Linked DNA regions of Homo sapiens: regions 1, 3, 4, 5, 6 and 7 are each reported to be linked to region 2. The links are microRNA targets in miRTarBase. Many come from high-throughput screens and were not tested one by one. Region 2 holds a microRNA gene; each other region holds the end of a gene's coding sequence.

Evidence for each region. Region 2 holds the annotated microRNA hsa-miR-578 (CUUCUUGUGCUCUAGGAUUGU, at 1,233-1,253, opposite strand). A microRNA usually pairs through its seed, bases 2 to 8, with sites in the 3' UTR of a target mRNA and lowers its output. Matches are read on the target gene's strand: a 7mer-m8 pairs with bases 2 to 8, a 7mer-A1 pairs with bases 2 to 7 and ends in A, and an 8mer does both.
Region 1: the mRNA of AZI2 is a reported target of hsa-miR-578. Seed matches in the 3' UTR shown: 7mer-A1 at 3,607-3,613 and 7mer-A1 at 2,021-2,027.
Region 3: miRTarBase lists TPI1 as a target of hsa-miR-578. Seed matches in the 3' UTR shown: 7mer-A1 at 3,279-3,285 and 7mer-m8 at 3,263-3,269.
Region 4: miRTarBase lists TMC7 as a target of hsa-miR-578. Seed matches in the 3' UTR shown: 7mer-m8 at 3,480-3,486.
Region 5: miRTarBase lists ZBTB40 as a target of hsa-miR-578. Seed matches in the 3' UTR shown: 7mer-A1 at 2,818-2,824.
Region 6: the mRNA of UBXN7 is a reported target of hsa-miR-578. Seed matches in the 3' UTR shown: 8mer at 888-895.
Region 7: the mRNA of RBMS3 is a reported target of hsa-miR-578. Seed matches in the 3' UTR shown: 7mer-m8 at 3,676-3,682, 7mer-A1 at 3,140-3,146 and 7mer-A1 at 1,185-1,191.

Annotation. Positions count from the first base shown.
Region 1 is chr3:28,320,372-28,324,434 of GRCh38, forward strand. It overlaps AZI2 (5-azacytidine induced 2), which reads right to left. Exons shown (of 8, transcript NM_022461.5): 8 at 676-4,063. The coding sequence ends at 3,671. It overlaps CMC1 (C-X9-C motif containing 1), which reads left to right. Exons shown (of 4, transcript NM_182523.2): 4 at 1-4,063. Among named protein-coding and RNA genes, the nearest start is that of ZCWPW2, 26 kb to the right of the region's middle.
Region 2 is chr4:165,383,477-165,387,554 of GRCh38, reverse strand. MIR578 (microRNA 578) reads right to left here and starts at 1,313; the gene lies at 1,218-1,313. The region is part of intron 1 of CPE (carboxypeptidase E); the gene reads right to left.
Region 3 is chr12:6,870,115-6,874,192 of GRCh38, reverse strand. It overlaps TPI1 (triosephosphate isomerase 1), which reads right to left. Exons shown (of 7, transcript NM_000365.6): 6 at 4,057-4,078; 7 at 3,245-3,928. The coding sequence ends at 3,810. SPSB2 (splA/ryanodine receptor domain and SOCS box containing 2) reads left to right here and starts at 890. Exons shown (of 3, transcript NM_032641.4): 1 at 890-947; 2 at 1,196-1,955; 3 at 2,874-3,258. The coding sequence starts at 1,292. The coding sequence ends at 3,001. RefSeq lists silencers at 481-930, 2,111-2,230 and enhancers at 1,321-1,560, 2,887-3,472.
Region 4 is chr16:19,061,603-19,065,602 of GRCh38, reverse strand. TMC7 (transmembrane channel like 7) reads right to left here. Exons shown (of 16, transcript NM_024847.4): 16 at 1,661-3,825. The coding sequence ends at 3,760. COQ7-DT (COQ7 divergent transcript) reads left to right here. Exons shown (of 3, transcript NR_119381.1): 2 at 1,564-1,798; 3 at 2,708-2,849. Among named protein-coding and RNA genes, the nearest start is that of COQ7, 4.0 kb to the left of the region's middle.
Region 5 is chr1:22,526,184-22,530,255 of GRCh38, forward strand. It overlaps ZBTB40 (zinc finger and BTB domain containing 40), which reads left to right. Exons shown (of 18, transcript NM_014870.4): 18 at 19-4,072. The coding sequence ends at 213. Among named protein-coding and RNA genes, the nearest start is that of EPHA8, 35 kb to the right of the region's middle.
Region 6 is chr3:196,352,960-196,357,037 of GRCh38, forward strand. UBXN7 (UBX domain protein 7) reads right to left here. Exons shown (of 11, transcript NM_015562.2): 11 at 1-3,887. The coding sequence ends at 3,726. Among named protein-coding and RNA genes, the nearest start is that of TM4SF19-DYNLT2B, 17 kb to the left of the region's middle.
Region 7 is chr3:30,003,523-30,007,600 of GRCh38, reverse strand. RBMS3 (RNA binding motif single stranded interacting protein 3) reads right to left here. Exons shown (of 15, transcript NM_001003793.3): 15 at 1-3,745. The coding sequence ends at 3,739. Among named protein-coding and RNA genes, the nearest start is that of RBMS3-AS1, 71 kb to the right of the region's middle.

The sequences.
Region 1 (4,063 bases), not on the chromosome of region 2:
GGGTGTAAAAAATAGAAGGACAAACAAGTGTGGGCAAACTTTTATAACAGCCCGCTCTCTTGAGAACTAATACCTGTAATAATGGCATAAATCCATTCACGAGGGCTCCAGCCTCATCACCCTATTACCTCTTAAAGGCTCCATTTCTTAGTCCTGTTAAATTAGCAACTAAGTTTCCAACACATGAACTCTTGGGGGACACATCAAACCATAGCAGAACCATAGATAAGGAGATACCTACTTATATGAATTAATTTTACTTACATCTTTGATGTAGAATTTTCTAAAACATAATGTTCTTAACCTGATAACTTGTTAGTCCTTTAATCTTTCATTTTGAAAAGTTATATTTCTAAGTGAATTACCATTCTGTAACATAGTAATGGACTCAGGAAGTAGTATAAAAAATTTATGTCCCAATTTAATAATTTGAGCTTTTATATTAAAAGTTATTTTTTCCCCATGAGCTGTTAACTCTTCCACAGCCATTGTAACTAGTTTCAAGATAAGTAAATTTTACGTATATTTTCACAGTCCTCATTAAAATCACAAATAGAAATTACTACCCACTAAGACAAGGTTTAACTTTCCCTAATCCCATGCAATAGATCTGAGAGATTTTTTTTTAAGAAAGAATTTAAATAGGACACTAAAGAATCAATTCAAGTTCCACACTTTACTCTTGAGTGAACCACTCAAAAAACTATTTTACTTTTATTTGAAATACAAAGAAACCACATTTTCCCAGGCCACAGATCAAAAGGAGGGAGATTACTAGAGCAGACAAAAGCAAAGCAAATATAGAAATCTAGAGACCACACAGCATAGGGGCAAACATGCCCATATTTCCACATTGACCTTTGGTATTGGTGCATTTCCTAGAGCACAGGAAGTTAACTGTTTTTAGAGATAAATGAAAATGGAAGAGTTACTTTAAGAAGCTAGTGAAATATACAATCTATTTTATAGCTTTGATTAAAATCAGAAGTAGCCCACTTCATGTAGAAAATTCACTTATGTACATGTTGCTTTCCCCATAGAAGCCAGATTAGATTACACAGTATAAATAATATGTTCATCCTCCTTATGTCAAAGACTAAACCATTCATTGTAGCCTTCAGAATACCCATGTGTATCCATACTGAAGATTTTTTTCACCTGGTACATCTGTCTCAGTTGTGTCTTGCTTGCTTATGGGTGCCTCTGTTGATATTATTCCCTGTTAATATGTGGTAACCCACAGGTTTTTTACCCCTTAAGATACACCTTCTCCAAGTAGCCTTTCTGAATTAAGATCAGTACTTTGTTGTCACATGATTCAGCTCTTCAAGTCTGAATTTTCCCATTTATTTTGGTTTTCTAATGTTTCACATAGGCATGTTCCTGCTTTTAAGAATTCAGTTCCATTTTGGCAGCAACTCAGTAAGTCTTACAGATGTAAATTTTACTTTAGCTAATAAGGGAGCAAGAGGAAGGAATAGGTGGCTTTTTGTTATGTTTTCTTCATTCTGTCGATTTATGGATGTACTGAATTGAACCTTATAAAAAGAAATCTAAAGATTCCAAAGGAAGCTCTTTAGAGCAAGTTTCAGCTAGTATGAAAGAAGTCAACATAAAATATTCAATTTTAAATAGATTCATAAGCTACAGATGGGCCACTGTTTTTTGGTTGTTTGAATTTTACCTAGAACAGAGATATCAAGTGTAGATTTAAAAGCTTCTAGCTGGGTAAAAAATTTTTGGCTAATCTTTCCTTACTAAAGAACCTTATACATCATTTGTCTAACACTTTAAACTGTCACAGTCACTGACTTTTTAGTATACCTGTTTGATAGCTATCATCACTGTACTGTTTAAATGGAAAATAATTTTCTCCACTCAAAAGCTGGTTTAACAAATGTCTATTGTATGAATCATATTAACAACCAACAATTAGTACTAGATTTTGAGATCTATAGGCAAGGACAATATTTCACATCCACTTCAATTTCAAACAAAAATATTTATTTTAATTAAACAATTTCTTGGTATTGTTCAAAACATTAATCAAGCAATTATCTCATAAGACTTTTTTTCTTTACAAAGGAAAATTTCCAATTTTGGTTTTAAAAAAGGCAAACCAGTAAGCTACATTAGAGATCAGATATAATATACAGCCTATGCAGCCACATGAGAAATAGTTTTTGCTGCTTTGTTATTACACAGGTAGTTGCTTCCTTCAGCTAAAGCCTGGAGTATTGTATTTCTTTTATGCATATTGGGTTTGGTTCTATTACTTGGCAGGAGATTGTACTCCCCTGAGTCAGCTGTGTTCATTGGTCAGAATAAATTCCAGCATCTGACACCAATTCCATTAATCACAGACAAGCTTGAATAAGTGTAAGATAATAGAAAAAAATATCTAGTGAATGGCGAACATTGTCTATGTATGTATGCTATTCAGTAATACAGTAGAAGAGATCTGAGATATTGAGTTCAAGATATATGAAACTGTCTATCAAAAAGGATAAAAGTCCTCCTACATGAAATACTTTAATTCAGGCAAAAGGTGTATGAACCAAGTAAATCTCCACCCTGAAAGAACTTAAATTTCCATGTGAAGCCATCTTTATTTCCTTCTTTATTTCCAAATAATTGGCCACTTAGAATAAGTGTGGACATTTCATGATCGACAATATCAATACAGCCCAAACCCTGATTTCTATGATTAAAAATAATAATTTTAAATCACTTTCTCAATAAATAGAATATTACATTTCAACACAAAGTCTAACAATTTAGAAGCTGCTCTACACAATGTGCAGCTAGCTGTAGTCTCTTTGAAGAAAATGACTTTTTATCATTACACACATTTATGTTTATATTATGGCCCACAGAAGGGCAGATTAGACTGAAATCTGTGTGATGCTCCTTCTACTACTTATTGAATAGTGTGTAGGGTTACAATCATTTGTTTACACCCCAGAGTTTTTCAACTATTTCATTTTTTTTTTTTTTTTTCCCAATTAGGACTTAAGGAATGTGCTGGGACAAAGTTGGCTTCAGTGATCAGGTTGTTTCAAGTCTTAGAATTCAAACTTCAATTCTAAAAAAATTTTATCAACAAAACACTGTGACCAAAAAATCACTTTAAATCTTAAATATTGAAACGCAATAGCATATAAAGATGGTATAACCTAAGATGCTTTTATTTCATTATATTTTCAATATCTTTACGCATTATAACAACAGAAATGTAACCTACTCACATTGCCATTTGTTCCATTATGCAATTTGAAGAAACATGTTTTCCTTTTATTTTTATGAACAGATATTTAGACATTTCACATTTTGTAAAACCACGTCTACAATCTCCAATTCCATTCTTCTGAGAGGCAAAATTTTACAATTAATATAGAAGGCAGAGTTTTTTAAACACCTTAAGTTTACTTATTAATTAGTATAGTAGCATATTTCAGATTCTTAGAATATGGAGCTAGAGGGTGCTCTTTCATACTAGAAAACCAACTATGTTGGTTTTTGTACTATTGTACAGTGTGTTCAAATATAGATACTGAAGACCTCTGCAAAATTTTAATCAAAATCTCCTTTCAGTTTGTTAAATAATTTCTTGGGAGGACCACTGAAAGAGATAAGTGTCCTCATGGTGAAATCGTGAATCTCTTCCAAATTAATTCTTATAAAGGCAGTTCTGATTATGTTGATCCAAGTAATGCAGTGGTGGAAGGTTGGGTAAAGGCAAAGTTTTAGTTTTAGTTTCCCCAAATGCTGTCTCACTTGATTTAGGAGGACTTGGAAATACCCAGGAATTGTCTTCCAGAGAATTTCTGCCATAAGAACTGTGTTCCTGAAAGCATGTACCATCATTAGGAATGGATCTCTCATTGTCTGTCCATGATTGGAGGATTGCTTTCTCTGATAAAACCTTTACATCTCCTGGTAAAGGGGAAGATGTGGTATGACAAAGAGCTTTGCCATTTGGTAAGAGAGGGGGATGTCTTGTGTATGTTGCAGTAAAATTCATCAAGTGCAGTTTTGTGCTGTCTCTTCCAAGGTCTTCACT
Region 2 (4,078 bases):
ACAGGTGTGAGACACCACGCCCGGCCAGGAAGAGGTTTTTTAGCAACCTGAATTTAAGTTATATTTAGGCTTATTTAGAAAATAAACAATTTGCATCCATTTTAAAATAATGAGCCTTTGTTTGAAATGAAATGTCTTCAAATGAGGGGATTATTATAGAACTATGATGTTTAGCAATGATTTGATAGTAAAGAGATTTCTGTAGAAAACAAAATATTTACCAGTAGTGGAAAGTTGTTCCACGGTGTATTATCATAAGTAATTCATTTATCTTTGCTTAACAGCCATCTCTTTAATACTCCACATGTGCCACCCTACCCTTCAAAGATTACTCATCTAGGGACAGTTAAAGAAGTGGGTAAATCATTTGAAAATCATAAAAGACACTAGTAACACAAACAGGCTCTTCTCTTAGGCCATGTTTTATTAGAAAAAGCTGGCTGTTAGATCACTTACAAAACACCATATCCTGAATGTTCAAAGAAAGAGAAACGTTCACAGAGCAACGGACTCACGGCAATTCCAGTAATTAATGAGAAGGAAACAAAAGGGCAAATTTAAACATGTTTCAAATTTAAGTTCATTTGACCCATCACGTAGCTCGGATAAACCTCCTCCTCTGTGGCATTTCAAAGTGCACGATTTGAATACCATTTCATGAGAAAAAGGAAAATGAAAACCTGGAGATACATATCTTCTGTGTTAAAAACAAGCACACAGTTCTTAGTTTTCAACACTCAGGTCTCATGCAGAGTTTTTAAAGGTCAAAATTTTACTAAATAAATGCTTACCAATTATCTTTAAAATGTTTATTTAACACTTAAAAAGCAGCTTAACTTTCTAAGATGTCTGAAGACTCTTCTCTTCCAAAAGGAAGACAGCCCCTTACTAGTCCAGTTATATGAGACAACAAACACAGCAAGTTCAGCACTGAAACTTGAAAAGACATGTAATTCACATTGGTATATTTCTCCATTATGCAAAACTGGATTCAGTGCACACAAAAAATAAGCATATGCAAAAGAAAAGTACCATCTCTATCCTTTCTTGTTATCACACTACTGGCATGCTAATATGCATGATGTCAACATCGACCAACATGGCTTTGTTTTATGATATGCATTTTTGCCTATTTGAGAAATTTCATTTATTCAAACATATTCACTGAGTGGCCACTATGTCCCAAGCATAATACTAGACATTCAGGATTAAAAAATATATATAAACAAAATACAATCCTAGAGCACAAGAAGCTACAGGAGCTATAGGAGCTTCTTGTTGTCCGGGATTGTATTTTGTCTATAGATTTATCTGTAGACCAACAGTGGGAAATACCATAATGAGGTAATAATAATTGTTGCCACATATTGAATTAAGAACTTTATATTTACCACCTCATTTAATCATCACATTATTGTCATTTCATAGGTGATGAATTTGGGAGATAGAGAGAAGTTAATTGACTTGCCCAGGGACACTCAGCTAAAAATAAGAAGCCTCAGGATTTGAGCTCAAGTCCCCTGACATCAAAGTCCACACTGTAATTCTTTACAGCTCTCCAAAGAAATATGGAAGCATAAAGAAAGAGCCCCAGCAGGGGTAAGAAAGTTAGGGAGCGGGGAGAAAGGAGGTTTCAAAGAGCTTTTGCTTCTGCTGAGACTGTAAAAGACTAAGTTAGTCAGGACTGGAGCAGTTTCATCATAAATTCTTTAGGAAAATAAGTCAGATTGCCAATGAAAATGTTGATATTGCCGTAGATTTATTTGGCTACCTAAAGAAACAACCATAAAGACATTCTCAAATACTGATGCACACTTTGTTCCTATTGAGTGTCCTATTGAGTGACGCTTGCTTGATTCAAGCTTGCTTGATGATTATTGTTCATCATCATGTCAAACTGAAGAAAAGCAAGAATGTCCCACATTTTAAAATTGATAAAAGGCAAACAGGCAGGGTGTGGTGGCTCACATCTGTAGTCCAGCTATTCAAGAGGCTGAGGAGGGAGACACCTTGAGCCCTAGAGTTCAAGGCTGCAATGAGCCATGATCGTGCCACTTCACTCCAGCCTGGGTGACACAGCAAGACCCCATCTCAAAAAAAAAAAAAAAAAAGCAAACATTTGTGAACAAAAATAAAACAGTAAGAAGAGGGAAAAAGTCCTTCAGGGCTATCAACTAAGCCTGTGCAACAGCATCCTAAGAGGAAAGCATTTGGCAGGATTGGTGGAGGCAGATCTCACGTGACGATGCAGCCAAGAGTGCCTACTCTAAATGAGTGTAAAGGCCATGGAGCACAGTTTCCAGACCAACTGAAAGTAAAAAAAGAATATTTACAAATTAGCATTTCTTTTTAATAACCAGATGTAAGCAACTTCATTAAATGTGTTTCTATATACTACACTACTTTGGCCTCACAGCGATCCTGTGAGTTCTGTGTTCTTAACGTATTCCCTTGTCATACACAAGGAAAAGAGGTGAACAAAAGTAAAAAGCATGAAGCTATTTAACAATAAAAGAAGAATTGTGGTGCATTTGTCTAACTTTAATCATTTTCATCAAAATTATGTGTCCTTTTCAGCTCTGTAAGAGAGAGAAAAAAGCAAACAAACAAAATTATTTCTCCTCTGCCTCATTGCCTCAGAATCATGCTCTGATTCTAAGCAAAACTTAAAAGCCTACTCTACATAAACCACTACACTAGCTGTTTATGGAGGGAAAAAATGGAAAACATATGTTCCCTACCCCTGAAGAGCTCCCTGTATGAGGCCCTCTGCTGGAGAATTGCCAACTGAATCATTTTTTTCTTTGTTCTACATCCAGTCTCATGTGACAAATGAATCTTTAATACTATGATAAAGAATGATAATGGGCTAATGGAAGTGTAACACTACTTCCAAGATAAGCTCCCTTTTTTATTGTTGTTGTTGTTATTTTGTTTCTGAGATAGGGTCTCGCTCTGTCGCCCAGGCTGGAGTGCAGTGGTACAATCATGGCTCACTGTAGCCTCAAATTCCTGGGCTCAAGCGCCCTCCTAAGCCCCCCAAGTAGCTGGGACTACAGGCAAATGCTACCATGCCCAGCTAATTTTATTTTTTTGTAGAGACAGGATCTCATGATGTTGCCTAGGCAGATCTCAAACTCCTAGCCTTAAGCACTCCTCCTGCCTCAACCAGGTGTGAGCCACCAGCCAGCGGGAGAGGAGGAAATCCCATGGTAAAAGCCTGGGAAATCTTATACAGTACGAATCTAACTTGGAGATTTGAAACATACATTAGCCTATTAAGAGCTCTGTTAGGTCTTTCAATATACAAACCTGTTTATCTTTGTTTACATAATGCCTATCAAACCATGCTGAATATATGTTCTATGGAATATATTTTGAGAAAAGCTGGGTTAATGTGTCACCCGTTACAAGAGCTATTTTGTATTTCTTAATAATATTTAGAAATAGGATTTCGCCCCGTGGTAAGACGGTAAGGGAGTTACTAGCAAATGAGTCGTCTGCCACCTCTGAAATCAGTTGTCACAGAAAGCTGCCTCTTTTGTCTGAGCAAAGGCTATCATGTAGGGGCAAGCCCAACTTGCCTTCTCTTCCATTAACCAATTACAAGTCAATCAAGAACATCACTTCTGGCAAAAGCTGTGTTGACTCATTCAGGTCTAAAAATAACTCTTGACCATGTGTGGTAGGTCTAGATTCTTCTCTAGGATCTAACATCTATCTTCACGAATTTTAAGTTGTTACTTAGTTGTAACCATTTGCCACTAACACATACTAATCTGCTATAAAAAGACGCCATACAAATAATAAAAATCCCCACTTATTTTTTTCAAGTTGTGTGGAAACTTTGCCAGCATTAAATGTTCCATCACAATATTTGGCAAATTCATACTGGCATTTATACACTTTATATTTTAACAGATTCAGAGAGGAATACGTCCAAAATAATCATTCCAGCCTTTGAGAAAGAAAAATCCTGCTCTAAAGAATGTTTTTGAGATAGCGTTTTAGCTATAAATCAGATTTACTTCCCAAAAGCTATCTTGAACTACGTGTAAAAGAAATAGTGTTTTAAGCA
Region 3 (4,078 bases), not on the chromosome of region 2:
AGGTCAAGGCTGCAGTGGGCTGTGATGGCGCCACTGCACTCTAGCCTTGGTGACAGCAAGACCCTGTCTCAAAAAAAAAAAAAAGAGAAATCGGGCAACTTCCCCAAGATCGCGCAGTTAACTAGTGGCATAGCTTCACTCAAACTCGAAGTCTTAATCAGGACACTCTACCAAATGAGATCAACGGCTCAGTAATGGATTGGCATCCAGTATGAAGACTGGACCAGCAGGGAGAACTATGATGCGTACAGCCTAGAGCCTGAAGCAGATTTCACAGCCTCAGAGGTGGCACAGGCTGACTCACAACCCGGGGCAGAAAGGGACCAGCCCAGAAACAGTGACCCAGAATCACAGGGAAGTAGAAATGGGATTCGGCACAATGAAGCCCCTCCTTGACCCCATGCTCCTTACCCTCAGGGGCGCAGGAGTTAGTCGCTCAGGCGGCTCAAAGGTCTTGACGGTGGAGAACACCATCCCCAGGGATTCCCGACGCGGTGATGCCATCAAAGCGTTAATTCTGAGATGGGCCTGCCCGGGTGCGGACTCTGCCGCAGCAAGAGAAGGGTTAACTGCCCCGGGCCTTCGCCGTGGGGGCGGGGCCTCGGGGAGGGTCACAGCCCGGGACTGAGACCCGAGGTTAACCGCCCGGGGTGGGCTCCACGGGGGCGGGGCATGCTCTCCGCGGCTGCTGCCGGTATAGAGCGGTAACTGCCCAGGAGGGGGCGGGGCCCCACAGGGGCGTGGCCTCGGAGCTGCACGGCCGTGGGCGGCGATGAGAGGGTTAAGCCCCAGAGGGCCCTGGAGGGGCGGGGCCGCGGGACGGGCTCGGCCCAAGGGAGGAGCTGGGGGCGGAAGCGGCCGGCGGTCTGCGCCCTGCGCGCCTCGGCTTCTTTCCGCCCGGCTCCTTCAGAGGCCCGGCGACCTCCAGGGCTGGGAAGTCAACCGAGGTTCGGGGGCAGCGGCGAGGGCTCCGGGCGAGTAAGGGGGATGGTCCATGCTGAGGCCCAAATGGGGCGAACTCGCGAGAGTCTCTGGCGACCTGGATCAGATGGGGCGAGGGCAGATGAAGGGCCCAGGAGCTTTGGGGCAGCGAGGAGGGAGGAGCGGGCCCGTTGGCAAACTTGGGTGAAAGGATGGGGTACCTGGGTGACGAGCCCCCGCCAGGATTCTGCTCTTCACGCCCCTTTTCTCCCAGCTCCCTTCCAGGTCAATCCAAACTGGAGCTCAACTTTCAGAAGAGAAAGACGCCCCAGCAAGCCTCTTTCGGGGAGTCCTCTAGCTCCTCACCTCCATGGGCCAGACAGCTCTGGCAGGGGGCAGCAGCAGCACCCCCACGCCACAGGCCCTGTACCCTGACCTCTCCTGTCCCGAGGGCTTGGAAGAGCTGCTGTCTGCACCCCCTCCTGACCTGGGGGCCCAGCGGCGCCACGGTTGGAACCCCAAAGACTGTTCAGAGAACATCGAGGTCAAGGAAGGAGGGTTGTACTTTGAGCGGCGGCCCGTGGCCCAGAGCACTGATGGGGCCCGGGGTAAGAGGGGCTATTCAAGGGGCCTGCACGCCTGGGAGATCAGCTGGCCCCTAGAGCAGAGGGGCACGCATGCCGTGGTGGGCGTGGCCACGGCCCTCGCCCCGCTGCAGACTGACCACTACGCGGCGCTGCTGGGCAGCAACAGCGAGTCGTGGGGCTGGGACATCGGGCGGGGGAAGCTGTACCATCAGAGCAAGGGGCCCGGAGCCCCCCAGTATCCAGCGGGAACTCAGGGTGAGCAGCTGGAGGTGCCAGAGAGACTGCTGGTGGTTCTGGACATGGAGGAGGGAACTCTGGGCTACGCTATTGGGGGCACCTACCTGGGGCCAGCATTCCGCGGACTGAAGGGCAGGACCCTCTATCCGGCAGTAAGCGCTGTCTGGGGCCAGTGCCAGGTCCGCATCCGCTACCTGGGCGAAAGGAGAGGTGAGGCCTGGGGCAGACGTGGGGAGAACTTTCTGTCCCTGGTGGCAGTGGTTTGGGATGGAAACTCTTCTGACAAGAGCAGAGGGGATGGACCTTCATCCAGCCTGCCTCAACCTCTGTTCAGTGCTGGGAAAGGCTAGGGGTCTTCACAGCTGTTATTTAATTTAACCCAACAGCAATAGAGGTGAAACAGGCTTGAGAAAGCAACTTTCTCAAGTTCTCTTGGCCAGTAAATGGTGAACCTTCAGAATGGAGGGAGGAACTGCAGGGATGAGAGAATTCAGGAGATATCAACCCCTGAGCAAGAGGTGCAAAGCGTTAGGTACTGGGTTTGATGTACAGGTCCAAAAGAAGGATGGGCAGAGCCAGGTACCCAGGCTGTATACCGGATTCCCTGGGCTCTAACCTGTCTCTGTGCCACATACCTACTTCCTTCCTCAGCCACACCTCTGGATGGAGACACTGGGGCCCTGGGCACCAGGGAGGAGAGCAGTGGAGGAGGCAGGGCCTTAGGGTGGGGCAGCAGGGGAGGAGCCTCCCCAGGAACTGACTGGGTCCAGGGCTTGGAGCTGCTCTCTGCAGTTGTGTGGGCTGTAGAGTGGAGGGCCATCCCTCCTCACCTCAGCCCCAGCTCCCAAGCCTCTGGAGTCAAAGCCTGGGCCAGCTCCACCACTGTCAGAGCCACCTTGGCCTGTTGTTTAGAGGGCCTTAGCCAGCTCTTCACCCCCAGCTCTGACTAGGGATGTGTGAAATCTTATCTGGGAGGCAGAACTTCCGGGTATCTCAAATTCCCCTTTCAGCCAGGTGGGCACACTCGAAGCAGGAAAGCAGAAAGGCATCTGAGTAGGACCCCGTAGTTTGAGGACATCTGGCTGGTGGCTGCACCCATACTTACATTCCCCTCCTTCTCTCTCCCAGCGGAGCCACACTCCCTTCTGCACCTGAGCCGCCTGTGTGTGCGCCACAACCTGGGGGATACCCGGCTCGGCCAGGTGTCTGCCCTGCCCTTGCCCCCTGCCATGAAGCGCTACCTGCTCTACCAGTGAGCCCTGTGATACCACAGACTGTGCTGAGGTCTTGCCACCACCCCTCCCCTTGGGGAGGTGGGGAGGCACTGCTGGCCTAGACCAGCTGCTGAAAGCTGGTGAGGCTGAGCCCCTACCCCAACCCAAGCTCTGCGGAAATCAACAGCCCCAGAGCCACTTGGAGGGAGGAAGAAAGGGAGCCGGCGTTCAAGGCTATGACAGTCTGCTACGCAAAACATTTTTTCAAGTAAAAATAGTAAGAGATGTTGTTATAGAAACCTGTTCTTGTTTTTTTTTTTTTCTTGCACAAATGATCATTTATATAGCTGCCTCAAAAAGGAAGATTATCTGGGCAAGTCCAGTGAAGGCAGACAAACCACAAGACCTAGTGCCAGGTTTATTCCCTCACATGGGTGGTTCACATACACAGCACAGAGGCACGGGCACCATGGGAGAGGGCAGCACTCCTGCCTTCTGAGGGGATCTTGGCCTCACGGTGTAAGAAGGGAGAGGATGGTTTCTCTTCTGCCCTCACTAGGGCCTAGGGAACCCAGGAGCAAATCCCACCACGCCTTCCATCTCTCAGCCAAGGAGAAGCCACCTTGGTGACGTTTAGTTCCAACCATTATAGTAAGTGGAGAAGGGATTGGCCTGGTCCCAACCATTACAGGGTGAAGATATAAACAGTAAAGGAAGATACAGTTTGGATGAGGCCACAGGAAGGAGCAGATGACACCATCAGAAGCATATGCAGGGAAAGGGCAGTTACTGGGCTTCTGGGCTGCTTAGTCCCTGGCTTGGCAGGAAGGGTAGGGAAGATGGATGGGGCTCATTGTTTGGCATTGATGATGTCCACGAATTCGGGCTTGAGGGAAGCACCACCCACAAGGAAGCCATCCACATCAGGCTGGCTGGCCAGCTCCTTGCAGGTTGCCCCAGTCACAGAGCCTGGGAAGGGAGCAGAACAAGGGCTTGGTCAAGAATGGGATGAGTCTGCCCCATCCCCACCTCCATGTCCGAGGGCTCAGTCTAGTCCTCAGCCCACTCCACCTCAGCCGGGAACCAAAGCCACTCACCTCCATAAATGATACGGGTGCT
Region 4 (4,000 bases), not on the chromosome of region 2:
GCCCATTGAAATGTTTGTAAAGAGCTTTTAATAACAGGAGAAAACACTAGATTCTTCAGGAAAACACATATTAAGTGAAAAAGAAATTAGAATACCAAAGTTCTTTCCTTCTTTTTCCTTCTTTTTCCCTCCCTCTGTACTTTCTATCTTAAAAAGAATTTTGCCAGGATTAACAGTGCGTGCCCATAAGTGCTGCTTTTTAAGTTTTTTTCTCTGTTGCTTTTGATGTTCTCTGTATTTGCTATAAAAAACAAGTATTTTTATAATGGCAAAACAAAATTTAAAAAACAAAAATGCATACTATTCCCTAATTCCATCCCCCTACCCACCAAATTATCCATTAAAAAAACTAGTTCCAGCCAGGCACGGAGGCTCACCCCTGTAATCCCAGACTTTGGGAGGCCGAAGTGGAAGGATCACTTGAGGTCAGCAGTTCAAGACCAGCCTGACCAACAGGGCAAAACCCCATCTCTACTAAAAGTACAAAAATTAGCTGGGCATGGTGGCACACACCTGTAGTCCCAGCTACTTGGGAGGCTGAGGCAGGAGAATCACTTGAACCCAGGTTGCAGTGAGCCGAGATCGCACTACTGCACTCCAGCCTGGGCAATAGAGTGAGACTACATCTCAAAAAAAAAAAAAAAAAAAAACACAGCCAGGCACAGTGGCTCACGCCTGTAATCCCAGCACTTTGGGAGGCCGAGGCGGGCAGATCATGAGGTCAGGAGATCAAGACCATCCTGATGAAACCCTGTCTCTATTAAAAATACAAAAAATTAGCCGGGTGTGGTGGTGGGCGCCTGTAGTCCCAGCTACTCGGGAGGCTGAGGCAGGAGAATGGTGAACCCGGGAGGCAGAGCTTGCAGTGAGCCGAGATCGCACTACTGCACTCCAGCCTGGGCAATAGAGACTACATATTAAAAAAAAAAAAAAAAAAAAAACACGGCCGGGCACGGTGGCTCACGCCTGTAATCCCAGCACTTTGGGAGGCCGAGGCAGGCAGACCACCTGAGGTCGGGAGTTTGAGACCAGCCTGACCAACATGGAGAAACCCCGTCTCTACTAAAAATACAAAATTAGCTGGGTGTAGTGGCGCATACCTGTAATCCCAGCTACTCGGGAGCCCGAGGCAGGAAAATCGCTTGAACCTGGGAGGTGTAGGTTGCAGTGAGCCAGTATCACCCCACTGCACTCCAGCCTAGGCAACAAGAGCAAGACTTCGTCTCAAACACACACACACACACACACACACAGAGAGAGAGAGAGAAAATACATACACAGGAAAACCCAGTTTCCAAAATTTCAGGGAGACTGATTTGAGTAATAATAATATTCTGGTCTCCTGTTTAGCCAGCTCTGCATGTATCAAACGCTTTCTCTGTTGCAATTCCTCTGCTGCAATTCCTCTGTCTTGATGAATGGGCTGTATCCAGGCAGCGGGCAAAATGAACCAGTTGGGCAGTTACACACATACACCCTCCTTGGCTTCAACAGAGCCAAGGAGCTTTAAAAGCACTCATCTGAGGACTACATTAAACACTTCTTTCTTTTCTCTCATTTTAGGAAAAAGCAAAGAGGAACTTTACAAACTATTACAGTTTTCCATCATCACTTGACTGCTGACAAGAAGCCTCTTTGAATTCCAGTATACACGATCACATTTTAAAACCTTCAAGACGCCGTTTAATCAGGAGTTGTAAGGCACATTTGTTAGAGAGAGCTGCACTTTAAAAGTTATACAGACATCACCTGAAGTTATTAAAGTTATCAAAACATATTAAAAACCTTCAAGTAAGAGGTATGCATATTAGCAGCATTTAACTAAAATTAATATATTAATTAGCATATTTCAGTATCACTTTTATAATAGGAAAAAAAACGCAGTACGTTTTCGTTGTGTTCATCACACACACACACACACACACACACAAATAGAAAACTTGAATATCATCAAGTCTGGTCACAGTGAAAATGTTATATAAATATAAAGGCACTGGGCAGAAATGTTTACAATTACAACTTTTTTTTTCTTTTCACCTATCTTTTTTTTTGAGATAGGGTCTCCCTCTGTCACCTAGGCTGGAGTACAGTGGCACGGTCTCGCACACTGCAGCCTTCACCTCCCAGGTTCAAGTGATTCTCATGCCTCAGCCTCCCAAGTAGCTGGGATTACAGGCACACGCCACCATGCCTGGCTAATTTTTGTACTTTTAGTAGAGACGGGGTCTTGCCACATTGACCAGGCTGGTCTCAAACTTCTGACTTCAGGTGATCTGCCCTCCTTGGACTCCCAAAGTTCTGGGATTGCAGGCATGAGCCACTGTGCCCAGCAGAATTTATTTTTTTAAGTGAGACTGGAATGAATCTTTGGTTACTCAAAATTCCATGACACCAGTTATTAGATTTAGACGAGATCAGGCATTTTCAGGGTGGTATGACTGTAGTTATTAGATTTAGAAACCCATAAACCTTACCAAGTCAGGAAAAGACCGAAAAGCTCATTGGTATCCCAGTTACAAAAATATTCCACTTTAAATAATATCTTTGTGGAAAAGCAAGAAAATGGCTGTAAGAAAGGGACGAGAAGATACCTTTGCTCCTCTGAGCAAGGATTCAGGCATTTTTGAGTAGTGGAGTGGAGATGGCCGGGAGAATTATTGTTAACAGCAACAGCTTTCTAAAACCTGCACCCAACTTTAAATTCCAGGCTACTCCCCAGGAAACGTGTGGAGCCAGTGAACGGAAGAAAAACAATGGAAGGAAGGCTTGAAAAGTCCATTACAAAACTACAGTCCTTTGAAAAAGATTTCAAAGATATTAAAATGAAAACTGATTACATTAAACAATAACTTAAACTTCTGTTCTTCTGTTAAAAGGTTGACATCTATCAATTTTGGGTAAGCTTACAATGAGGTATTTATTGCATATGGTTTTTACCATAACGGAAATCTTAAGAGATATTCTACATTTTTTTTTTAGGGAGAGTTTTGCTCTTTTTGCCCAGGCTGGAGTGCAATGGTGTGATCTCAGCTCACTGCAAACTCCACCTCCTGGGTTCAAGCAATTCTCCTGCCTCAGCCTCCTGAGTAGCTGATATTACAGGCATGTGCCACCACACCCAGCTAATTTTGTATTTTAGTGGAGACGGAGTTTCTCCACGTTGGTCAGGCTGGTCTTGAACTCCCCAACTTAGGTGCTCCGCCTGCCTCGGCCTCCCAAAGTGTTGGGATAACAGGCGTGAGCCGCTGCGCCCAGCCACATGTTTTGTGAAATAAAGGCACATGCATTAAAAATTGTAAGCACAGGAAAACAACCCTAAAAAATGTGGACGTGTGTGTTTAAGAAACCAGCCTCCAATTCTGTTTGTTATACACTCATGGGCTGGTCTGATTAACAGGCTGAGCTTCAGTCCACAACCCAAAACACTTGTGCACATAAACTCGTGGCTCAAATACTAAACTACCGTCTCCGCTCTTTCATTCTTGTAAAAGCTTGAATGGCTTGTTGGTTTTTGGTAGAGTTGTCACAGAGTGGCCGGTCTGCAGGCAAAGCCTTGGGTTTCCCCTGCTTTTCTAAGTCACTGAAGCCCTAATTAAGGGCTGGGTTAGGTAAACACAGCTGCACATATGGAAAAGCCTAAACTCAAGAAAAATATATTTTTAAATGTCCACTCAAAACCCAGGTAGACTCTGTAGGCTCAGCAGAATCACTAGGTCAGCTTAGAAGCAACAGGCAGCACCATCTTCACGCTCAGTCTAGTTAGTTCCTCATGTCCCTTTGGGCTTCTGTTAGTTTCTGGATTAGGTAGCACTTGTCACGACTTTCCTAAAAAATAATAAGTTCACATGTACATTTAATATATTTGGAAACAAATACCATCATTACCTACCAGACTGAGGGCTGAGGATTCTAACCACTGGACTATTGTAATGGCCTCTCATCTGGTCTGTCATTGTGTCTGCTCCACAGCCCCTTGTCCACAAAGCAGCCGATCCTTTTT
Region 5 (4,072 bases), not on the chromosome of region 2:
ACGGTCTTTCTCTTTCAGGTGATCCAAACCCCAGAGCCGGTGGCCCCGACAGAGCAGGTGATCACTTTGGAGGAGACCCAGCTTGCCGGGTCGCAGGTGTTTGTGACGTTGCCAGATTCTCAGGCATCTCAGGCCAGCTCTGAGCTCGTGGCGGTGACTGTGGAGGACTTGCTGGATGGCACAGTGACGCTGATCTGTGGTGAGGCCAAATGAGCAGCCTTTCATCCGGCAGAGCCTTCCTGCGTTTGCAGCAGAGAGGAGGCCCCACAGCTTGCCCTTTGCCCTCCATCCCTGGCTGTCCTGAGTGGTGAGCATCTTAGCTTAGCACCAACCAACACAGTCTCACCTAGAAAACAGATGGAAGCTTCGTTGTTCTCATAGAACCAACAGCATCTGAGCCCTCAACACCAACAGCACCATCCTCTGTAGCAGACAGGCCTCCCTCCCCACAGGCCCGCTGCTGCGGCCTCTATGACACTGTCCATCCCCAAGTGACATGTGGCTTCAGAAGTAGAGTCTGAAAGAGCAGTGGGATGGGAGCTGGTGACCAGGGTACCCCAGGAGGCATGATGTGCCGACAGCGCTCAGTGGGCAGAATGGCAGTTAGATATGGGACTTGGCCCACAGTGGGGGCTGCAAATGCTGCCACTGCCTCTGGCCATTTAAAGTGAGAGGGGCACCAACAGACAATTCGGGGACCTTAGGCCCCTTCCTGAGGCACACTTGGCCCCTTCCTCGGTCCTATCATCCTACCCTCTGCTGGGGTTCCCCCTCCACCCAGTGGCCACGCCCAGCACCCTATTGATGGCTATAGGACAGGTAGCCCTCATTTCCATGCCTGATAACCCCTTGTCAGTTGTCAGCTCTTCCCAAAACAAAGCTCTGGAGTTTCTGCTGGAAGTGTTTAATGTGAGGCATCAGCTGCTAGACAGTGTCTGCCTTTCCAGGACATTCTTCTTGGTATTCCTTACCTGAAGCCTGGTTCCCACAGCTCTTCCGTGTCATCTTCATCCCCTTCCTTTAATCAAAGGCTGAAATCTCTGCCTGACCTGGCAGCCTGGCTCCCTCTGGGTCATATGGTGCAGACTGTGACCAGCACCAGGCAGGCAGTCCTGTCTGCGTGTGGAGGAGCAGCCGTGACTGCCCGTGGCTCTGCTGCCGCCCACTCCCTGCCTTGTGAGTGGCCTGCTGCCTCACCTCCCGCAGGCCGCCACACTTATTGCAGGTCAGTGATCCTTTGGAGTTTGAATTTCACAAAGCTTTTTTTATCTTCAGTTCCTAAAATATAATCTGATAATTAATGGTTTGTGGAATCCATTATGAAGTGCAATTAGATAGATGTAGGTTCCTGCCGTTTGGAGAGAATGACTAGCATTTATCTTCTTTTCCTTCCATGCCAAAGGTTGGAGTCTGCTGGTGCGGTGTTTACACACCAGGCAGGGCTGTCTGCCACCTTGTGTGGCTTGACCCCCTGTGGAGGGGAGTGCCTGGTTGGATCCCACACTGGCAGAGATGGGGCCACCCCTTCCTTCCAGGCACATCTCACATTGCCATGTACAGAGGCAGGAGTCACGTTTGGTCACCATGGAAGCTTTTATTGCTCCCACATGGTCAGGTCTCACCCTGCTTGAAGCGCAGAAGGCACAGCCTTACTGACCAGCACGCCCACTGACTGGCATCTGCCGGCTTTGTGCAGGCAGCCCCGACGGTTTCCACAGCGAGCGCCAGCTCCGGCCAGCCTGGGACAGCTCATCCCAGCCGACTACACCTGCTTCTGGTCCTGTCCACATTTTGATACGCAGATCACTTGAGCTTGTCAATTAGGGTTCTGCCATTCTGAAATAAATGAAGTTTCTAAAGCAGAGTCGGCCTCAGAAGCCAAAAACTGACCAGAAGATGGTGCTCAAACCTTTAAGACTTCATCTCCATGTGAAGGGCTCACTGTTTCTACCAAGGCTGTGCCTGTATTAAGGCTTTTCCGTCCTGGGAACTGTCAGTCTGGGAGAGCTCTTGATCTGCAGGTGGCAAAATGGCACTGAATATCCCCTTGGCAGCAGAGAAAACCCACTGAAAGATCGTAGAGTGGCACATGCTTACAGGGCATTGGTGCCAAGTCCAGTGGATGAGAATCCAGCCCCTCACAAGCTGTGGGATGGGGCTTGGGAGTTGCAGTGAATGTCATTAAAATTTCTTCCAAAACAAAACTAGAAATAATTGCTGAGGGCTTATAGGGAAGTGATTTAAAAAGAAAAAACAAACAACAACAAAAAAAACTCTTCGGAATAAAGAGGGCTGTAAATTTTGAATTCCAGTGTCAGATCCTTTCAAGCACTGAGAAATTCTTTCTCAGGTTTCTTTTTTTGGGGGAGACAGGGTCTTGCTCTGTCACCCAGACTGGAACACAGTGGCACGATCTTGGCTCACTGCAACCTCTGCGGGCTCACGCAATCCTCCTGCCACAGCTTCCCAAGTAGCTGGGACCACAGGCGTGAGCCACCACTGCTGGCCAGTTTTTGTATTTTTTTTTTTTTTTGTAGAGACAGGGTCTCGCCATGTTGCCCAGGCTGGTTTAAAACTCCTGAGCTCAAGCAGTTCTCCCACCTGGGCCTCCCAAAGTGCTAGGATTACAGACATGAGCCACTACGCCTGGCCAGGTTTCTGTTGGAGACCCAGATTGTGACAAGACATTTGTTTTCTTCGGAATCACCAGATTTGCAGCTTACTGTGCCGAGAGTGGACTGGCTGCCGGGGCCCATCAGATGCCCTCTGGCCCATGGCACACTCAGCAGAAGGCACAAACCCAGTGCTGGTTCTCATCAAGAAAGAGGGGAAGGCCCTTCCCGAGTTTACTGTCTGCTCTGAGTGGGCTCCGCACTGGCTGACTGATTTTATAGTCTTGCTCTCTAGAGAAGCCCAGGCATGGATCTTATAGGAAAACTTTCTGACTCTGCTTGGCCATTTTATCCTTTTCTCCTACTTCTGCCCAAGAGACCTGAATTGCTGCCATAGAGGACAGTGTTTGTGTGGTCTCCTGAGTCCACATCGCTCGCTTCCATGGGGTCCCGGTGTTGTTTTTGCCTCGTTCCCCATAGGCTGCTGCCCTTATGGCCTCTGGACTGAACTCTGGGGCCTTTGGGGTGGTGTGAAGGAGTCTGTGGGCTTCTTGGAACACATGGATCTGTTCGGTGGGTCCCCAGACCTCTGCTCCCAGAGCTCATGGCCCAGGTGGTGAGGAGGGAAAGGCAGTCAGATTCCAGGCTGGAGTGTGATTCTGTGGGAATACTGGGGTCAGTTATGGAACAGGACTTGCCCATCATAGGTAAGTGAGACAGCAAATAGATGATTCAAGAGCAAGGATTACTGCGGGAAGGTGAGACTCCTACTGTCCACGCGCATGAGCAGAACCTGGAACCAGAGGGGCAGGGACCAGGGGTCTTTACTCATTTATTTTATGGGTAAAGAGACATGAAGAGACAGCCTCTCTCTTCTGTCTCAGAAGCTCTGTGTTTGGGAAACTTTGAGCCCAGTGAGTAGCAGGGTCTGCAGTGTGAGTACCAGGTTTCCCTGGCAATCCAGGTCTCCTCTGAGGAAGCATTCTGACTTCCCACTGACCACGGAAGGCATGTCAGCTTCATGCCTCGGGCTAGAGTTCTGATAATCGGGGCTGAGGGGTGAAAAGAAATCCAGTCAGACAGACAGTGGGGAGACAGGTCCCTGCCCTTTATTTGCGGGATCAATCAGGGACTCCCAGAAAGGAAGGAGAATGGTGAGAAGGGCCCTAAGAGTTCGTCTCTCACCTGGGGGCTGGTGACGTGGTCACCACAAGCTGAAGACAGGCTAATGGGGTGGCGGGTGTGTGTTTAAACCTCACGTGCCTGGAAGCTGCACATTGACCAAAGGAGGGAGGGAAGTGCTAACCATGTATAGAGTGGGCAGGCGGTTCCAGGGAGACAAGCAGCATGTTATTAAATTGGGCCTAGGCAGTTGGACGATAATGGAGAAAAAGCAGGGATGCTATAATGAGTCCTCCCCAAGGGTGAGTTCAGCACCCCAGCCCTGTTCTGCTTGTATC
Region 6 (4,078 bases), not on the chromosome of region 2:
GCCACGTGGCAATTTTACTTTCACATCTTCACCAGTGCATCATTTTAAAAAAGCAATAATCAGCCTCTCAAAATAATGGCATAAATAAAAATGTATAGGCATAGTGCAAATCCCACAACTTTAACCCAACTACTTCCTCTATATTTATGGGAACAAAACTAAGTGACACTTTACAAAGCCAAACAATGAGAAGAGAATCATCTGGGTAGCTTGATTCTCTTGCTGAAGGAGACCACAGCATGGACTCTGGATTCCAATTCTGATTTGCCACTCACTAGCTATGAGTCCTGAATAAGTTCTCTATACCTGTTTTCTTAACATGGGAAGAAAGTATACATTTTGTACGATTCTTCGGGAGATTGAAGAGGCAAATGTACACAAAAGTATCTGGTGCATGCCAATTAGTATTAAGTTTCCTGTTCTTTTCTCATTTGGCACTGTTGTTTTCTCTTCTCCAGTTCCTTCCGATACCAATTTCAAAAAAGTATTCCTCTCACTTTTTTCCCACTAGTTTTCTTCTTCTTCTTCTTTTTTTTTTTTAAATTTGAGATGGAGTGTCGCTTTGTCGCCCAGGCTGGAGTGTAATGGTGCGATCTTGGCTCACTGCAACCTCTGCCTCCCAGGTTCAAGCCATTCCCCTGCCTCAGCCTCTGAGTAGCTGGGATTACAGGTGCACGCCACCACACCCAGGTAATTTTTGTATTTTTAGTAGAGACGGGGTTTCACCATGTTGCTCAGGCTGGCCTCGATCTCCTGACCTTAGGTGATCTGCCCACCTCCGCCTCCCAAAGTGTTGGGATTACAGGCATGAGCCACCGCGCCCGGCCTTCCTGGTAGTTTCCATTCCATCTCCCTGTATTTTTCTCTTATCACTCTCGAAGTCTATCTTTCTTGTTCTTTTCCTCCCTAGCTTTTTTTTTTTAAACACTCCTTTCAAGCTGTGTCCAACACCCACAAGGAATGACTATTTTTAACTAATCTTACTGACCTCATTTAATCTATTCAATAAAACCTCTGCCCTAAGGAGCAAAGAAACTTGCAGAGGAAGTAAGGCAAACTGGAAGAAGCATACTGTCAGCGGATTAAATTCTTGAGCAAGGCAATACTCCTTATGGATTCTTCCCATGTACAATCCGTAACTCTTCCCATGGGCCTTTATATCAACCCTAAGATAATTACACTCCTGCCTCAAAATAAAATAAAATAAAACCCACCACATCTTGTATTGTAGACATCCCAGCTGCATGTTAAGCTGAGTGAAAGTACCATGCTGTCTTTTAAATCACTTTATATCTACTTAATCATCCCACAGTAACCCGAGTTGAAGAAGTTACTTTGGTTTCTCATAAATGAATATGCACGTGCTGAACATATCGGAAAGAACCACACCCTCTCACTGATGAACACGTTGGCAGTTCTCCCAACTGTTTTATCAAGAGAAGCTAGAAGGTAAAGAAAAGGAAACAGAGCCCTATAGGAAAAATGATTGACTTCACACGTTTGAGCGATTTGGGCTTCAGCTATGACTTTGCTGGAGTACAGATGGGTGCCATCAGAGCACAAAGCTGAGCAAACCTCTCTTCTTACCCTGTGCCCTCCCTGAATTTTTGGATTTCTGAGCTTGTCTACTACCAACAAATGTTTTACCCTCCAGTGCACCTTTGACAGTATACAGCTCTATTTTTCAAACGGCAAGTATGTTATCCAAGTTCAGAGATGCAACTGAGGAATTAACATGAAAACCATCTTTCACTCAATAAATCAGAAGCTGCTAGTTAAGTAAGCCTCAAGAACCTAAGAAAAAACACCAAAGTGTAAGTATTACTCAGTCACCAATCTAAAGACAGAACTTTGACTCAAGGTAGAAATGAAACCGTAATTATATAAATATATTTATAAATATTTATACAATTATATACTTATACATAAGCACTTACACAGACTTAGAAAAAAATTTAAGAACATTAATTCAAAAGGACTCACTGAAGAATAAACAGATTTTTCCATGATTTCCTTGAGGAGATATAAAACTCATTCTTTAGGGAGAGTTCCTCAAAATTCAACCATTAGAAACCATATCCTATAACTGTGTACTAGCAACACATGGCATCTTTTTTTCTTCTTTTCCCAAATCCCCTAATTGCCAAGAGAGCAATCTTAAAGTAGATGAAAACCTAAAGGTCTCTACGCAACATCTGAGGAACATACGCTCCTCAGATAAAAGAATCAATCTAAATCCTCAACTGACAAAAAGGTCCATTTAATATTTTTCATTTTACAAGTTAAAAGTTCTAGTTTTGCCACCAGAATCACGACTACCCCCCCTTCAGAGGACTCCATTTAAGCTCAAAATACGAAATGAGCATAGGGTGAAGTTGATGTGTAAATGGTATTCTACAGATTCAAGATGGCCTCTTCTAAAAACACTGAAGAAAGCTTTCACCAACTCTAATTTGATTTTGGGTTTTGTTGGCAGAAAAAGCCCAAGACATCTGAAAATTACTAGTAACCTCCGCCATCCTCCTTACTAAATGTTGTCTTCTGAATGGAGTTGAAAGGTCTTCCCCTTAGAGAGGCTTTCCGTTTTGATACCTTTTGAAAGAAAACAGCATGCGGACTCATGTTCAATTCAGTCACCAGAGCCTTTTAGAGACTATTCCAACCAGGGGCAAAAAATGAACCATTATTTCTAACCAAAAGAACATGGTTAGCAACTCTCAGCTGAATGGTTTTCTTTTTCCCCAGGGACATACCTAAGTATGCCTGAAACAACACAGGACAATCAATAACCATAGTGGTTACAATTCCAAGCCATTGTACTACATGATTATTGACCAGCTGCCTTCCTACAGATCACTGCAGACTCAGACAATGGAGGGCTCCAAAGGAACTAATATGCTGTGCTGGCAAAAATAGCAAGCACCTTCCTATCCCAGTCACCACGATAGGTTCACTTCATGTCCATTCTTGGACTAGCAGGATCAATACAGAGTAATAAGGAAAACTGTCTCAGGTTAGGACAATGAAAGTCACCCCATGCTATATGCTCCATATTTAACACTCATTCTGCCAATAACACATGTCATGGAAATAGTCCTTATAGCTGGGAACATGAAAATCCTTTGAAAAAGGTTTTTAAGTATGATGAGCAATCATTACAAGGGATGCTTTTTCCACGTAAACAAAAGCCTGGATATTTTGTTAAGCGACATTTCCACATGAAGAACACAACAAAACCAAACCCATGTTAGAGAATTTCTTCTCCCTGCTAAACACGGGGACTTACAAAAAAGGGAGGGTTGTTCTTACTCTGAATCTAGCCATTCCTTTGCCCGAAGAGTCTGGGGAGTAACGTTAACATTTGATCCCAAAAAAGTGCCGTGCAAGAGACCACTTACTGGAACACACAATTCCTGCTGCTAGTACTAGGAGAGGTCTTATCCTTACACTTCAGTTTGGTCACCAGATTAGGTAAGAAAGAAAAGTGTGGGGGGAGGGGGAGGCAGAAGGGTACGGAGTGGGGAGCGAGAAAACAGAAGAGGAGAAAGAAACAAAGGGGGAGAAAGAGACTGATTATAGGAGAGATCAAGAAATAAGAGAAGGAAGGTGACTTGCTTGCCCAACTTTGGCTCTGTGGTCCTATGAGCCAAAATGCATACTTAGTGACATGTATCTCACAGGAAAAGGGAAAAAAGGGGTAAGCTGAGAGAGGTCAAGCCATGGTGTTAATTTCTTTCCTGTACAAAGACAGTCTCTTGAGGACAAAGGCCTGCCTCTTGCAATGTAATATCATAGTCCAGATGAGATAATTTCCTTCGAGGAAAGTTGGTGAGAAGTTCAAAACGTTCATTTGGGTATCCTTTAGACTGCACGTGCTTCACCAAAGCCTATAAAAACAAGAGAAAGACAAAGCCATTAGACGGAAAAAGAGGAAAGAGCATATTAGTGAATTAAATAGAAAACATTCTCTTTTTAATCATATTAGATCAGCTATTAAATGTAAGTTCTTCTTTCATATAACCAAAGCTTGCCCTTGGGGAAGGGCCAATATAAACCTTTGGACGGGGAGATAAATCTG
Region 7 (4,078 bases), not on the chromosome of region 2:
TGTATTGGGGAGCTCCAAGTTACCATGAACACTTTGCCTCCCTTGACAATACCATACCATTATTAAAAGAAAACTCACTGTTGCACTGACCATGAAACTAGAGTTTAGACGAGACAGTGTTTCTCTCATTTGGATTGTGGCTTTAGTTTGTTTCCTGATGTTTAAGCTAAGTCTTGGCTATTAAAGTCAAAAGGAAAAATGGAAACATCCAAATAAATGCTTGAAAATCTGGTGGACCAGAATGCACAGAAAATTAACTTCAACTTAAAGAAAAAAAAAAAGATTATAGTCCTAGTTAGGATGGGCGACAGAGCGAGACTCCGTCTCAAACAAACAAACAAACAAATCACTACAATATATTTTGTTGATTAAATTTGAATTCTGTTGTCTGTATATATTGAAAACTTATTTTGGTTTATTACCACACAATGTAATGCTGCTTACCTGTTGATGCTTTTTTTTCTCTCCCAGACTTGGCTCTTCAAAACAAGTCTTAGGTAAGACAACAGACAAAGCAGGGCAAATTTGAGTATGTGCCGTTGTTTTCCTTCTATTTTTTTTCTTTTTGGTTTGAAAACATACATTTTATAGAATGGCATGATATAAACTATCCAAACACAAAACACACATGAACACATCAAATGACAGGTCATTTCCTTTTGCAGAAACTGGCTTAAAAAATTGATATTGAAATTTCATAGTTGAAAAAAATATTTCTGAATGTACAAATAAAGCAGCAGTTTTGAATAGAAACAGGAAGTTACCTAGGCACATTCATTAGCCACATGGTAGCTACCTCTTAGCCTCATTGTTGATTGTGTGAATGAGACTTTCTTTGTATCACATTAATACATGTTTTTGGTTATTTTTTCACAAAAATGAAAGAAAGTATGTTGGTTTCATATTCAAATGAATTATGCCCAGGATAATCCTTATTTATACAAAAAGAGTTTAGAGAGTGAAAAAGAGAAACAGAAAATATGGTTCTCATACATGTCTTTTTGTACCCCAAAAAACTTTGGGGCCCACTTTTCAAAGATAAAAACTTAAGTGCCACCTTTATAATGCATGGGAAGCTGAAGGATGGAACAAAAGACAGTATAAATCTAGCATTTTCTCTAAAGCATGAAAAACCATAATGGTGAGTGTGACCAGTTGGAATTTCTCTATAACGCACACTACATTTTCTTGGATACACTTTTGTCTCCAATGTGACCATAAATATATGGAGTCATTCTCTGATTTGGGCTTCCAGTGCATGGGGTTGCAAATAAGAGAACCAGAGTTTACAGAAATAGTAGAATATTGACAATTTCACATGAGTCAACCTTATTACTCATGTTGACCTAATGGGAATATGATTTACCTTTAAAACTTTTTAGTTTTTAAAAAGCCTACCCTGTTTTATAGTACACTTAAATACATTTCCCTGCTTCTTTTGGACTAAGACAGGCTCCTGTGACTGACTTAGTTTTTGAAAAGAGTTTCACCTATTTGATTCAAAGGATTCATTCAGAAAGCAATCTAGTGAATGGTTCACTTAACAAATTCTATTCCATTGTCCTTAATTTCAGGTAAAACTGTAAAGGTTGAACACATATCATCTCATGAATTAAAAATGTAGATATATTTTACAGGTGGGTCAATTTAATTCATTTTAGACAAAGTTTTGCATTGTTCTAAATGCAAGTATTCCTCCTTGGCTTAAATGATTGATCAAACCTAATTCTTTTGGTTCTTATTGATATAAATCATACTGTTCCTTGATTGTCAACTAGCATTTTAAGGACTTCCCTAAATTCCACCAATAGAATTCTCAATCTTATTGGTCCTACATGCCTCAAAGAATTAAACTGAAAGAAAAAGTTCTTTCGGCAACACCAATATACAAAAATACAGTGAAAACAGGCAAAAAGATGATACCCCCTCCCCATTTGCAAAACCAAGGTGACTATTCATGGTAGGTGATGACAAAGACAGAGGTGTAAAGACAAAACCCAGAGGTGTTGTAATTTAGAGGGAAGACTATTGTTCAAATACAATGAGACCTTTCCAGGAGACCACTCACCATTTCACAGAATATCCCTAAGCTTTTTTGACAAATGACCTTTCAGACCAGGTCCAGAAAGTGTCTTTAGCTGAAATTTCATATAAAGAATATTCCACCTGTTAAATAAGCATCTTGGTTTACTAGTGGCCATCAATACAGGTTTCACTATTCAAGACAGCTAGTGAGAAACCAGAAAAGCTCACAGAATTTAAAGCCACTTGGCTCTATGAATCAGTTCATATCCAGAACTCTTCATGCTGAAACTGCTAAACACAGCAGGTACAAGCTTCTGCTATCAATGAATACACATTTAAAGAAAAGAGAGACAACTCCCCCCACCCTCTTTTTTTTTTTGCACTATGTAAAACACCAGTGGAAGGTAGTTTAAACAAACAACAAAGAAAGAACTGGTCCGGCCATGTCGGTCAAATAAATTTTTTTTTTTTTAAAAAGAAAAGAAACGAAAACAACCTCTATCTTCTGGACTGTAATAGGGTGTCACTTCATCTTTGGTATAAAATAGGCCATCCATAGGCTGAATTTGATCACAACTAGGAAAGACTACAGAAATTGTCAACAATTTCTCTATCTATTGCTTTTTTTTTGTTTTTTTTTTTGCACTTTTTGACCATAAGCTCCTATCTACTTAAGTTTTTTTTTTTAATGCTCTTAAGCTAGGTTTTGCAATGTGACAAGCAAAGCTGACTAAAAACTTTGTAAAGCTCATAAAAAAGACTGCAGATAAAAAGCACTAATGCTTTTGCTAGCGATCACGCTTTGTAAATTAAAAAAATCTGCATTCTGCCCCCCAAACACGCATTATTTCTAATGCAGTTGTTTTTAAACCAACCTTAATAACTTTACTGTAAAATGTTTTAGCCTTTTAGAATGATTCATGTCAACACTTAAGACAAAGTTCATGAAAAGTCCCAGCATTTTTCCAATTCTTGCAGTTGCCATGGTTTATCAACAAATTTTCTTCAAATGAAGAAAAACATTTTCATTTAAACTGTACAGTTTTTTCTTCACCCTAAAAACTCATAGTCTTAAACTTCTGTGCCAGTGAAAGCCGGCACAGTATTTCAATTCTTTCTTGATTTTTGTTTTCAACAAGACGTTGACAGCTTGCCTCGAGAGCCTTTGACGTCCTTAAAATTAAGGCAATTAAGATTCAAGATAAACCTTACCTACATATTTCTAAGAAAAAATAAAATAAAAAACCCACTAGATTAAAACAAGAAGGGAAAAAGAGAAAGTAGCTTAATTATTGAGGAAGACAATTTGTTTCCATTTCTATTGCCCACCTCTTGACATCAGGTTTTCTGTTAAAAAAAAAAAAAAAGTATCTACACCTTCAGAAAAATTCTGAATTCAATTCAAATGTTCTTCCACATAAAATATCAACCTTCAATGTTTTGTTTTTTGTAGTTTTTTTTTCCTCTTCTGGAAATTTTTTCTTTAATTAAAAAAATGATGGCAAAAATAAATTGTCAGACCACATGAAGACCATTTGCACAGCACATAAAAACTTTGCTTTCATTGGGTAAGGTATAACACTAAAAAAAAAACAACAACAACAACAAAAAAATGCATTCCATTGACGTCTGTGCAAACTGGAAGCCAACTTCTTGTTCAATGAAGTTTCTTCATTCAAGGCAAAGATTCAGACAGACATTCTTCAGTCCTGTTTATGGTCTGTGAAAACAATTGAATAAGAGTGGTCATTAAATTAAAGTAACTTTGAAATCACCTTCTGTGCCCTTTTCCAATGAGGCAGCTTTAAAAGATACCAAGCTTTCAATGTAACATAGTCACAAAAGCATCATAAAATCATACTGAGTCTATGAGATTGTCAAATTCTGCCACTTTCATTTAAATACAGATTTGGGCCAGAGAGTTTGTTTACATTAAAAATCAAGGGTAATAGCTTATGTTATAGCTCCTTACAGATCCTTTGAGTAATTCTGTTCCTTCAAAACTACTATAGGAATCATCACTAATTCCAGCAACAAATATGAGATTCTTTAC